Homo sapiens: one gene and its partner. The protein of the gene in region 1 interacts with the protein of each later gene in a biochemical or structural test. Each region holds a gene or a part of one and is shown in the gene's direction. Other genes may lie near its edges.

Region 1 (5,256 bases):
AGGAATGTACTATATAGCATATGATTAAGATATGGAAGGTAGCAGAGATAGAAGGAGACCGAAAAGGAGAAAGAAAAGAATTCAACATTCTGGAGATCTTGATGAGGTAAAGGGATTGGTATATTGGGTTAAGGGCATGAGATACCTGGAAAGACGTGGTGTTTTTCAGGGAATGGGAAGTTGGAATATAAGATTTCAGATGTGGTACAGTTCCAGATAATGACAAAAGTCTGAGATGTGTCTTTTGAAGTGCATGGCTGAAGCACAGTGGAGGAGATAATGTTTGGAGTGAAGGAACTGGAAAAACTGACAGCCTAGATGCTAGAGGATTAGATGGTTTGTCCACATGTATGGTGAAGTCACCAGATATATTGGCAGGAACTGGGATAGACAGGGACCCAGGTGCTGAAGTCTTTAATGAAGGAAGGATGGTGCTTACGAGATAGAAGACAGTGTTGATTGGAGTCGAGGGTGATCTAGCTGGATGGTGGCCTTAAAGCAGCATTACTTTGTAGATGTTTATGTGACTAGAACAGCGAGATGGGTTGAGGTTCTGGTGTATTTGTGTGTATTATTCTTTCCTCACACCATCATATACCTGTTGTTTATCTCTTCTGCTTCTACTTCTTAATTACTTGTAAGATTTTTTAAAAGTCAATAGCTTTATTCATAGAAAATAACTAATGAATAATTGTGACCTTGTTGAGTTTAACGGCTCATTTTTCTTATTTCTTTGTGGAGACTAATACGATTGGTTTACTGGGCAGGAGGAACTAGACATTAGAACACTGCAAACCAAAAATCGCAAGCTGGCAGAAATGTTGGATCAGCGGCAGGCCATTGAAGATGAACTTCGTGAGCACATTGAAAAACTGGAACGACGACAGGCCACTGATGATGCCTCACTATTGATTGTCAACCGATACTGGAGTCAGGTAGCTAACTTGTTTATTTGTTCAGATTTTTATTTGACCAATTTAGTTCTCCTTACTGTTCTCTTCATTTCCAAAGTTGTGTCCTTTGTTTCTTCATAATTGTACCTACCCTTCTCCAGTTTGATGAAAACATCCGTATCATCCTTAAACGTTATGATCTGGAGCAGGGCTTGGGAGACCTACTCACAGAACGAAAAGCCCTTGTTGTGCCTGAACCAGAACCAGACTCTGATAGCAATCAGGAGCGTAAAGATGACCGAGAGAGAGGCAAGTGTTCGTGATGGATTCTATCACTGCATGCTATCTGGGTTTTTAAAGTAGAGCTCTGCTTTGAGGCTTTCCATTTGAGGGAAAAAAAATGGATTTTGTTATTTCCAGTTTATAATTTTGGGGGGCTTCTTTTTTTCCCCCTGTGTCCTCAGGGGAAGGGCAAGAGCCAGCTTTCTCTTTCCTTGCTACTTTGGCCAGCAGTTCCAGTGAAGAGATGGAGTCTCAGCTGCAGGAACGTGTGGAGTCTTCCCGCCGAGCCGTGTCCCAGATTGTGACTGTTTATGATAAATTGCAAGAAAAAGTGGAGCTCTTATCCCGGAAGCTAAACAGTGGAGGTGAGGCAAGACCCTGGAGGCCGGGAGTAGTGGAGGAGGAATAAGAATTCATTTTTGCATGCTAATTTGTAGTTTGCAAGCTTACATATTTATTTTTATTTATTTATTATTTACTTTTTAAGAGATAAGGTTTCACTGTGTCACCCAGGCTGGAACACAGTGGCACCATCATAGCCCATTGAATCCTCGAACTCAAGCAATCTTTCTGCCTCAGCTTCCGAATAGCTAGGACTATAGGCACGTACTACCACACCTGGCTAATATTTTAACCTTTTTGTAGAGAGGAAGTCTTGCTATGTTGCCCAGGCTGGTCTCAAACTTGGCCTCAAGAGATCCTCTCTTCTGGCCTCCCAAAGTGTTAGGATTACAGGCATGAGCCACTGTGCCTGGACTATATATTTTAATTAAATTTTTAGAAATTCTAACCTTCAGTGTTACTGGTAATGTCTTCATTATGGCATATTAATCTTTTATCAGTGCTTCTCATTTTGAGCCACATGACAGTCCTTTAATAAGCTGAGGAAAGAGTTTATCAGCTCTATACTGATATACTCTATTAATGACAGTTTTGTAAATAGCAGAATTAACTTTATTATTTAATAAACAGCTCTAATATCTGGATCTGTTTATCGTGTATGTAGGCTATTGATTTATAGTGATAATACTTTATTTTAAATAACAACTATATTATTTAATTATTAGTTACAGAATTTTGACTTGAAAAAGTTAATTTTTACTTAACTTATTTTTCATTATCGCTAATGTTTTTAAAAAGAGTTGGTGCAGGTTTTAGAGTTGACAGATGATCTGTATGGTTAAAAGGATTATTAGAAAATATTCTATGGATGAAAGAGTATTTGAAATAAAATAATTATTTGGGATAATTGTGTTACTCAGAGTTAATGCAAAAATTTAAATTTGTACAGTAAAGTATTTGTGTAGCTAGGTTACATCTTTAGTCATTTGTGGCATAAATACCTTGCTCAAATGCAAAAAAAATGCCTTGATTTCATGTTTTCAATAATAATCATGGTCTAGTTGTAATATCTTAATTTCCCTGCTTATCATTAAGATGTTTAACCTTTCATTTCTGAAGGAAATAAGTTGAATGTAATGGAGGTTGAACCATTGGATGAGCATATAAGAATTGTATTATTCTGTAATTTTGCTTTTAAGGGTAATTGGGCTAAGTTGTCAACAGAATTAAGCAGCTTGTAGAAGGCCTGTGAAAATTTGGTCACGGGTTTCTTTTGCTTTTCCATTAGATTATGCATTTCTGTATTTTATTATAAGGAAAACAGATACTTGTTTAAAAATATACAAGTCAGAAATACAAATAAGTAGACTACAAAAGTTTCCCCATTCTCATTTCTCAAAAGATAACCATTCTAAACAATGTGTTTTATGTCCTCTCAGACTTTTGTACTTTTGTATTAATATCTTACATCTACTTGCATGTCCCCAGCTAAACTGTGTCTTGGTTCAGTAGTTTGGCTCACTCTTCTTTGTTTCTCTAGTTTCTAGCACTGCATCTGGCATCTAGCAGATGTTTAGTCAATGGGGAATGAATGGATGTGAACCTCCCTGTCACCTAATATAAAATAATGGTGCTTTGTGTGTGCACATATGCTTCTTTCTCCTTGGGCTCTAATTGAATAGTTAGAAGGTATTGTTAAATTTTAGTAATATGGTAATTAATATGCCATGTGCATAGACTATGTTAAACTTGATTTCATAAATGAATATCAAGTGAAACAATTGTTTTATTTAAAAAGGGAATAAAATGAGTAGTATATCAAACGACTTTAAAATTACTATTTAATGGCATGCATTTTAAGGTCGGGTTTAAGTTAAAAAGTAGAAACATTACAAATAGCCATGCCATTATTTGTAACACAAAAGGCAATTGCCATTGGTAAGCTGAACTTTCTAAGAGATAAAGATGTATAAAGTATGAATTATAGCATCAGTTGTAACTTGTTTGAAAGTTCATCCCCCTGACTTAGACTGAAAATTGACATTCCTCAAATTCCTAGGACATCATCAATACAGTAGTTTCTACTTCCCCATTCCCTGTGGAATTTCTACCACGCCATTCCTCAATAACACTATACAGTCTTTTATATTTAGGGTAATTCATTATTTGGAGGTTTGGAGTTGTGTTGTGTTTTACAAAATCCCCTATGATATGATAGGCCTTCTAGAGTAAGGTAAGGCCTTCTAGAGCAAGTATAGGCCTTATAGAGTAAGGTCTATAAATTCATCTAACCCTGCCAGAGCGGCACTGTCTAACCTGCCACGGCAGTACTGTCTAACCGTGCCAGGGCGGCACTGTCTAACCCTTCCAGGGCGGCACTGTCTAACCCTTCCAGGGCGGCACTGTCTAACCCTGCCAGGGCGGCACTGTCTAACCTGCCAGAGCGGCACTGTCTAACCTGCCAGAGCGGCACTGTCTAACTCTGCCAGGGCGGCACTGTCTAACCTGCCAAGGCAGCACTGTCTAACCCTGCCAGGGTGGCACTGTCTAACCCTGCCACTGCAGTACTGTCCAACCCTGCCAGAGCGGAACTGTCTAACCTGCCAGGGCGGCACTGTCTAACCTGCCAGAGCGGCACTGTCTAACCCTGCCAGGGCGGCACTGTCTAACCTGCCAGGGCAGTACTGTCTGTTTGTTTGGTCTTTGATTCAAAAGAATTGCATTTATGGGCTTGTTTATAAATTCACTAAACATTTATTGAATTTTATTGTATTCTAGCCCTGTCCTCAGTGCTTAGGATATTGAGAGGACTAAAATTCAGTCTCTACTTCTTAACTCAGGTTATGAATCAGAATAACCTTGGGAGTTTTCTGAGCATATTCTTATTTTTGGCTTTGCCCATGGAGGTTCTTATTAAGTAGGTATGAGATAGGTCCTAGGGAAATGTCTATTTTAAAAGTTCCACAAGTGATTCTGATGGGCAAGCCTAGCTTGAAAACCATGAAAACCACCATATGACCAACCTGTTCTGTATTGATACTAAGAGTAATGCCAAGAGGTGATATGAGAAAGCATATTTTTCTTCCTGATAACTCTCTTTGATGGGTGGTATATATCCTGAGAGTATCTGGTTTCATTTAATTACATTTGGATTTCAGCTATAGTATTTGCAACTCTAATTTTAAACATACGAACTTGGTGTAATAAGTTCTATGGATTTACCTACCTGCTTTGTAAATAGTAGTGTACATTTTGGTTTTTAAGCTTCAGAAGTGCCCCTAACATAGTATTTCAGAATATATGATATGAGAATATGTGATAAGAGCATATGATTCTTGCTTTGTTATTCAGGCTGGTCTTGAACTCCTGGCCTCAAGTGATCGGCCTGCCTTGGCTTCCCAAGGTGCTAGGATTACAGCGTGAGCTGCTATACCTGGCCAAGGATACACAGTTTTAAAATTTGACACTATAGGCCAGGCACGGTGGCTCACACCTGTAATCCCAGCACTTTGGGAGGCTGAGGTGGGTGGATCACCTGAGGTCAGGAGTTTGAGACCAGCCTGTCCGACATGGTGAAACCCCATCTCTACTAAAAATACAAAAATCATCCGGGTGTGGTGGCATGTGCCTGTAATCCCAGCTACTCTGGAGGCTGAGGCAGGAGAATCGGCTCGAACCCTGGAGGCAGAGGTTGCAGTGAGCCGAGATCGCGCCACTGTACTCCAGCCTGGGCGATAGA
Region 2 (5,256 bases), on another chromosome or scaffold:
GGCTAGTGTTTGCTCAGTCCTTTATTGAGGGACCAGGGATGGACAGCCTGGCCCTGAAAGTCTCTCAGTTTTGGAGGAGTCAGCCTGTGTGCAGGGCGAGCTGGAGAGGGGTCGGTGGGGCTCACAGTGCCTTCCCAGAGGAAGCAAGCAGCTCCCATCGGGTATATTGAGGGCTGTTGGCTCCAGGGTCTCCTCAAGGTCTGGCAGGTGGAGGGGAGGCTGTCTAAGGAAAGGAGGTGGTCCCAAATGTCTCAAGGCACCTGGCAGCAAGGGCTGCTGCTGCCTCAGCCTCCTCCCTGTGACCCTGTGGGCCATGGTGAGCAGCAGTAGCCACCACACTTGTGCACGGCAGCCAGTGACGAGATGTGATGAGAGATGAGGGCGATTGTGCTGCTCTTGGTCCTTGTGTGGCGAGAACACGCTGGAAGCTCCTCCAGAGCGGAAACAAGAAGAGTGTTTATGAGAAAGGTGCGGGTGGCTCAGATGTGGACAGAACCAGACCAGGGAACGGGGCCACAAAGTGAGCCACTTTGTCTGCACCTGCTCGCGCTTCCTGCCTGCCTCACTGCTTCCATGCCCTGACTCCGGTGGTCCCTGCTCCCCACACGTGGGCCACAGCTACTCACACACGCGCTCCCTTTGCTCCTAAAGCCTATACTCCCGGGACCCGGAGAGGGAACAGCCGGCCAGCCGAGCCCAGGAGCCCAGATCACCGGTCAGCAGATACAGCTTTGACTTGGCAGGAGGCTGGAACAAGAGGCTTGTGGCCTGGGCTGTGGGGCCACCTTGTAGAATACGGCACTGTTCACGTTTTGGGCCAGGGAGCCCTTTGAGAAGATACTCAGAGACACAGACACTTTCTATGTAAGGTGTCCCTACAGGCAGGATCTCACACACATTTCAGGTCCTTCACAGTGCTGCAGAAAATGAGGCCACAGGCTCCAAGTTTACTGCAAGCTGCGGGGTTTGCTGACACCTACACTTCTCAGCGTGTGGCATCTCGCACCAGCCAGGGGCCTCCCATTTCCAGTGGCAGGTTTTCGTGATATCCAGTTATGACCGGTGACTCCTCCAAGAGGTGCCTGTGGTCAGCAGAGGAGGGACCTTGTTCCACTGAGGCAGGAAGATGAGAGAGACACTGGGTTCTCTGATGGGTTCACCAGCAGACCCTGTGAAATTCATAATGGCCCCTAAGGTAGGGGTTGCCTGACATGTTCAACTTGGATTTAACCCTTAAGGCATAAGAAGCCGCTGAAAATGTTCAGACGTTACAAAACTAGGGCCGGGCACGGTGGCTCACGGCTGTAATCCCAGCACTTCGGGAGGCTGAGGCGGTTGGATCACCTGAGGTCAGCAGTTCAAGACCAGCCTGACCAACATGGTGAAACCCCGTCTCTACTAAAAATACAAAAAAAAAAAAAATAGCCAGGCGTGGTGGTGCGTGCCTGTAATCCCAGCTACTCGGGAGGCTGAGGCAGGAGAATCACTTGAACCTGGGATACAGAGGTTGCAGTGAGCCGAGATTGCGCCGCTGCGCTCCAGCCACAGAGCGAGAAACTGTCTCAAAAAAAAAAAAAGAAAGAAAAGAAAAAACCGGCGAGGACTGAGGTAAACCACAAAATTGTCCAGGCTTTTTATGTGGAGGGAATTTGCAGACTCACGTGCAGAGAACCCAACAAACCCAGACTTTGGGGCAGCTGAGGCAGCTAGAATGTGTGGGGTGTGGTACCAGAAAGGAAGGAGTTACGCCCAAAACAAAGAGCTCCAGCAATCTGCGCGTGAGCCCGCTTGCATCTTGGGTTGGATCCGATTTGCTGGTGCACACAGTGAAACCTCGTGGAGCTGGACCAAGAGCAACTTGAAGGGGAAGAGTAAGTGTAAGGGGACAGATGAGCAGGACTCACACAGGGCCGTGGTTATTTCAGTTCCCACCAGCCAGAGTATAGAAGCCACTTTAAATACAAGGAGCTTTCATGACACCTTAGAGGAAACACAGCTTGGAAGTGGCGCAGAATAAGCTGCAGAGGAAAGGCCACTCCAATGCCGTGGAAACAAGTGCAAGGCAAGCCCTGGAAACACCACTGCCTGCTAGCACGGAGTACACACAGCACTCTTGAGAGAAGGAAGCCAGGCGAAGTGGCTCACACCTGTAATCCCAGCACTTTGGGAGGCCGAAGCAGGCGGATTATCTGAGGTCAGGAGTTCAAGACCAGCCTGGCCAATATGGTGAAACGCCGTCTCTACTACAAAAAATTAGCCATGTGTGGTGATGGGCGCCTGTGGTCCCAGCTACTTGGGAGGCTGAGGCAAGAGAACCACATGAGCCCGGGAGGCAGAGGTTGCAGTGAGCCGAGATCGCATCACTGCACTTCAGCCTGGGCAACAGAGCAAGACTCCTTCTAAAAAAAAAAAAAAAAATTCACGTCCAGAATCTAATCAGTCATGGGCAGACAAGCCAAAGCAGAAAAATGGACTTGTCACTGGAGGGGGTCCAGTAGCAGGCCCAGTTTTGATAGGATTAGCCAACAAAGACAGTAAACAATTATAAAAATGTTCCCTGTGCTCAAAGAAATAACACAAAAATGTGACTGAGGGCTGGGCGTGGTGGCTCACACCTGTAATCCCAGCACTCTGGGAGGCCGAGGCGGGTGGATCACGAGGTCAGGAGATCAAGACCATCCTGGCTAACATGGTGAAACCCCGTCTCTACTAAAAATACAAAAAATTAGCCGGGCGTGGTGGCGGGCACCTGTAGTCCCAGCTCCTCCAGAGGCTGAGGCAGGAGAATTGCTTGGACCCGGGAGGTGGAGCTTGCAGTGAGCCAAGATCGTGCCACTGCACTCCAGCCTGGGTGACAGAGCGAGACCCCGTCTCAAAAAATAAGAAAACATGACTGAGAAATGGAAGATACAGAAAAGAAGCAAGTTGGACAAAATGTCACTGGAACTAATCTCCCAAGTAGAAGAATTCCACATTGTTTACTGAGATAGTTCCCCTTCGAGGAGGTGATGCTTAACTCCTCACTCCAGAAGCCTGGGCTTTACCTAGTGACCCTCTTCCAAAGAGCAGAGCACAGAAGCAGGAGGAGCAGCTTTCCAGTGGAGACCTCCAGCAACACAGCCTCACCAGGGACCATGCTCACCATCAGCAGTGACATGCGTATCACTGTTGTGTACTCTTTTTTTTTTTTTTTTTTTTTTTGAGACGGAGTCTCGCTCTGTTGCCAGGCTGGAGTGCAGTGGCACAATCTCGGCTCACTGCAACCTCCACCTCCCAGGTCCAAGCAATTCTCCTGCCTCAGCCTCCCACGAAGCTGGGACTACAGGCACCCGCCACCTCGCCCGGCTAATTTTGTTGTATTTTTAGTAGAGATGGGGTTTCACCGTGTTAGCCAGGATGGTCTCAATCTCCTGACCTCGTGATCCGCCCACCTTGGCCTCCCAAAGTGTTGGGCGCGTCAGCCACCGCGCCCGGCCTGTTGTGTACTCTTGATAGGATGATGAGAACAGCACTCTACCTCTTTGATCTTCCTCCCAAAAACATACGTAACCCCAGCTAATGATGAAAAAACATCAAACAAATCCAAATTGAGAGACATTCCACAAACTGTTTGACGAGTCCTCAAAATTGTCAAGGTTCTCAAAAACTAGGCAAGTCTGAAAGGTGCCAGAGTCAGTGGGACTGAAGAAGATGTGACAACTGGATGGATTTTGGATGATGTCCTGGAGCAGAGGAAGGATTGGGTAAAAAGCTAAGGAATCTGATTAGAATGTGGGTCCTAGTTAACAATGTGTCTAATGTTCTTGAGACAACTGTACCACACAAAGGCAGGATGTTAATGATGGGGGACACTGGTGTAGGGCATGTATTCTAAAGTAAAAAGGTGGTTCTTCAGAGTCACCGGAGCGGTTTAACAAAACATTAGAAACTTCAGAAGAAAAGATTCCTGAACTAAAAGCAATGGAAACTGTCCACAGTGATGTACAGGGAGAAAAAGGACTGCAAAAACTTAGCCGAGCTTCAAGGACATAATATCATGTGGTCTAACGTATTTGAGGTTCCAGAAAACAGTGGGGAAGAGAATACAGAAATATGACCAAAAGGCTGGACACGGTGGCTCCTGCCCGAAATCCCAGCACTCTGGGAGGCTGACATGGGTGGATCGCTTGAGCCCAGGAGTTCAAGACCAGCCTGGGCAACATAGCAAGACCCTGTCTCTATAAATAATACAAAAATTAGCCGGGCGTGGTAGTGCCTGCCTGTGGTCCCAACTACTCGGGAGGCTGAGGCGGGAGGATCACCTGAGTGCAGGAGGTGGAGGCTGCAGTGAGCCATGATCGTACCACTGCACTCCAGCCTGGGCAACAGAGCCCTGTCTCAAAAAAAAAATTATGGCCAAAATTTTTCCCAAATTTTTGAAAAGCTGTAAGCTCACAAATCCAAGAATATCAGTCTTAAGCAGGATAAAACCAAAACCATATCAAGGTACATTATATAATCAAAGTGCTGGAACAGGCTGGTGAAGAGAAAATCTTAAAAGCTCCAGAAGAGGCCGGGCGCGGTGGCTCACGCCTGTAATCCCAGCACTTTGGGAGGCCAAGGCGGGCGGATCACCAGGTCAGGAGGTCGAGACCATCCTGGCTAATACAGTGAAACCCCGTCTCTATTGAAAATACAAAAATTAGCCGGGCGTGGTGGCGGGTGCCTGTAGTCCTAGCTACTCGGGAGGCTGAGGCAGGAGAATGGCGTGAACCCGGGAGGCAGAGCTTGCAGTGAGCCGAGATCGCACCACTGCACTCCAGCCTGGGCGACAAAGCGAGACTCCGTCTCAAAAAAAATAAAAAGCATCCAGAAGAGCCGTGCACGGTGGTGGTGCCTGTGGTGCCAGCTACTCAGAGGCTCGGGTGGAAGGATTGCTCCCAGATGGGGCAACATAGCTTGGCCAACATGGTGAAACCTTGTCTCTACTAAAAATACAAAAACTAGCTGGGCGTGGTGGCAGGTGCCTGTAATCCCCGCTACTCGGGAGGCTGAGGCGGGAGAATCTCTGGAACCCAGGAGGCAGAGGCTGCAGTGAGCCGAAACTGCACCATTGCACTCCAGCCTGGGCGACACAGCGAGACTCCGTCTCCAAAAAAAAAAATTTTTTTTTGCAACTCAGGAAGACAACCATTTAAAAAAAATTAAAGGCAGGCCGGGCGCCGTGGCTCACGCCTGTAATCCCAGCACTTTGGGAGACCGAGGCAGGCGGATCAC

The links.
Region 2: the proteins of RNF20 (region 1) and HSF1 form a complex in vitro, tested with the Homo sapiens proteins (one study listed by BioGRID).

Annotation. Positions count from the first base shown.
Region 1 is NC_000009.12:101,539,436-101,544,691, forward strand, and holds part of RNF20 (E3 ubiquitin-protein ligase BRE1A), read left to right. Parts: intron 1-767; coding exon 768-935; intron 936-1,054; coding exon 1,055-1,202; intron 1,203-1,357; coding exon 1,358-1,540; intron 1,541-5,256. UniProt on the Homo sapiens protein: Component of the RNF20/40 E3 ubiquitin-protein ligase complex that mediates monoubiquitination of 'Lys-120' of histone H2B (H2BK120ub1).
Region 2 is NC_000008.11:144,297,035-144,302,290, forward strand, and holds part of HSF1 (heat shock factor protein 1), read left to right. Parts: intron 1-5,256. UniProt on the Homo sapiens protein: Functions as a stress-inducible and DNA-binding transcription factor that plays a central role in the transcriptional activation of the heat shock response (HSR), leading to the expression of a large class of molecular chaperones, heat shock proteins (HSPs), that protect cells from cellular insult damage.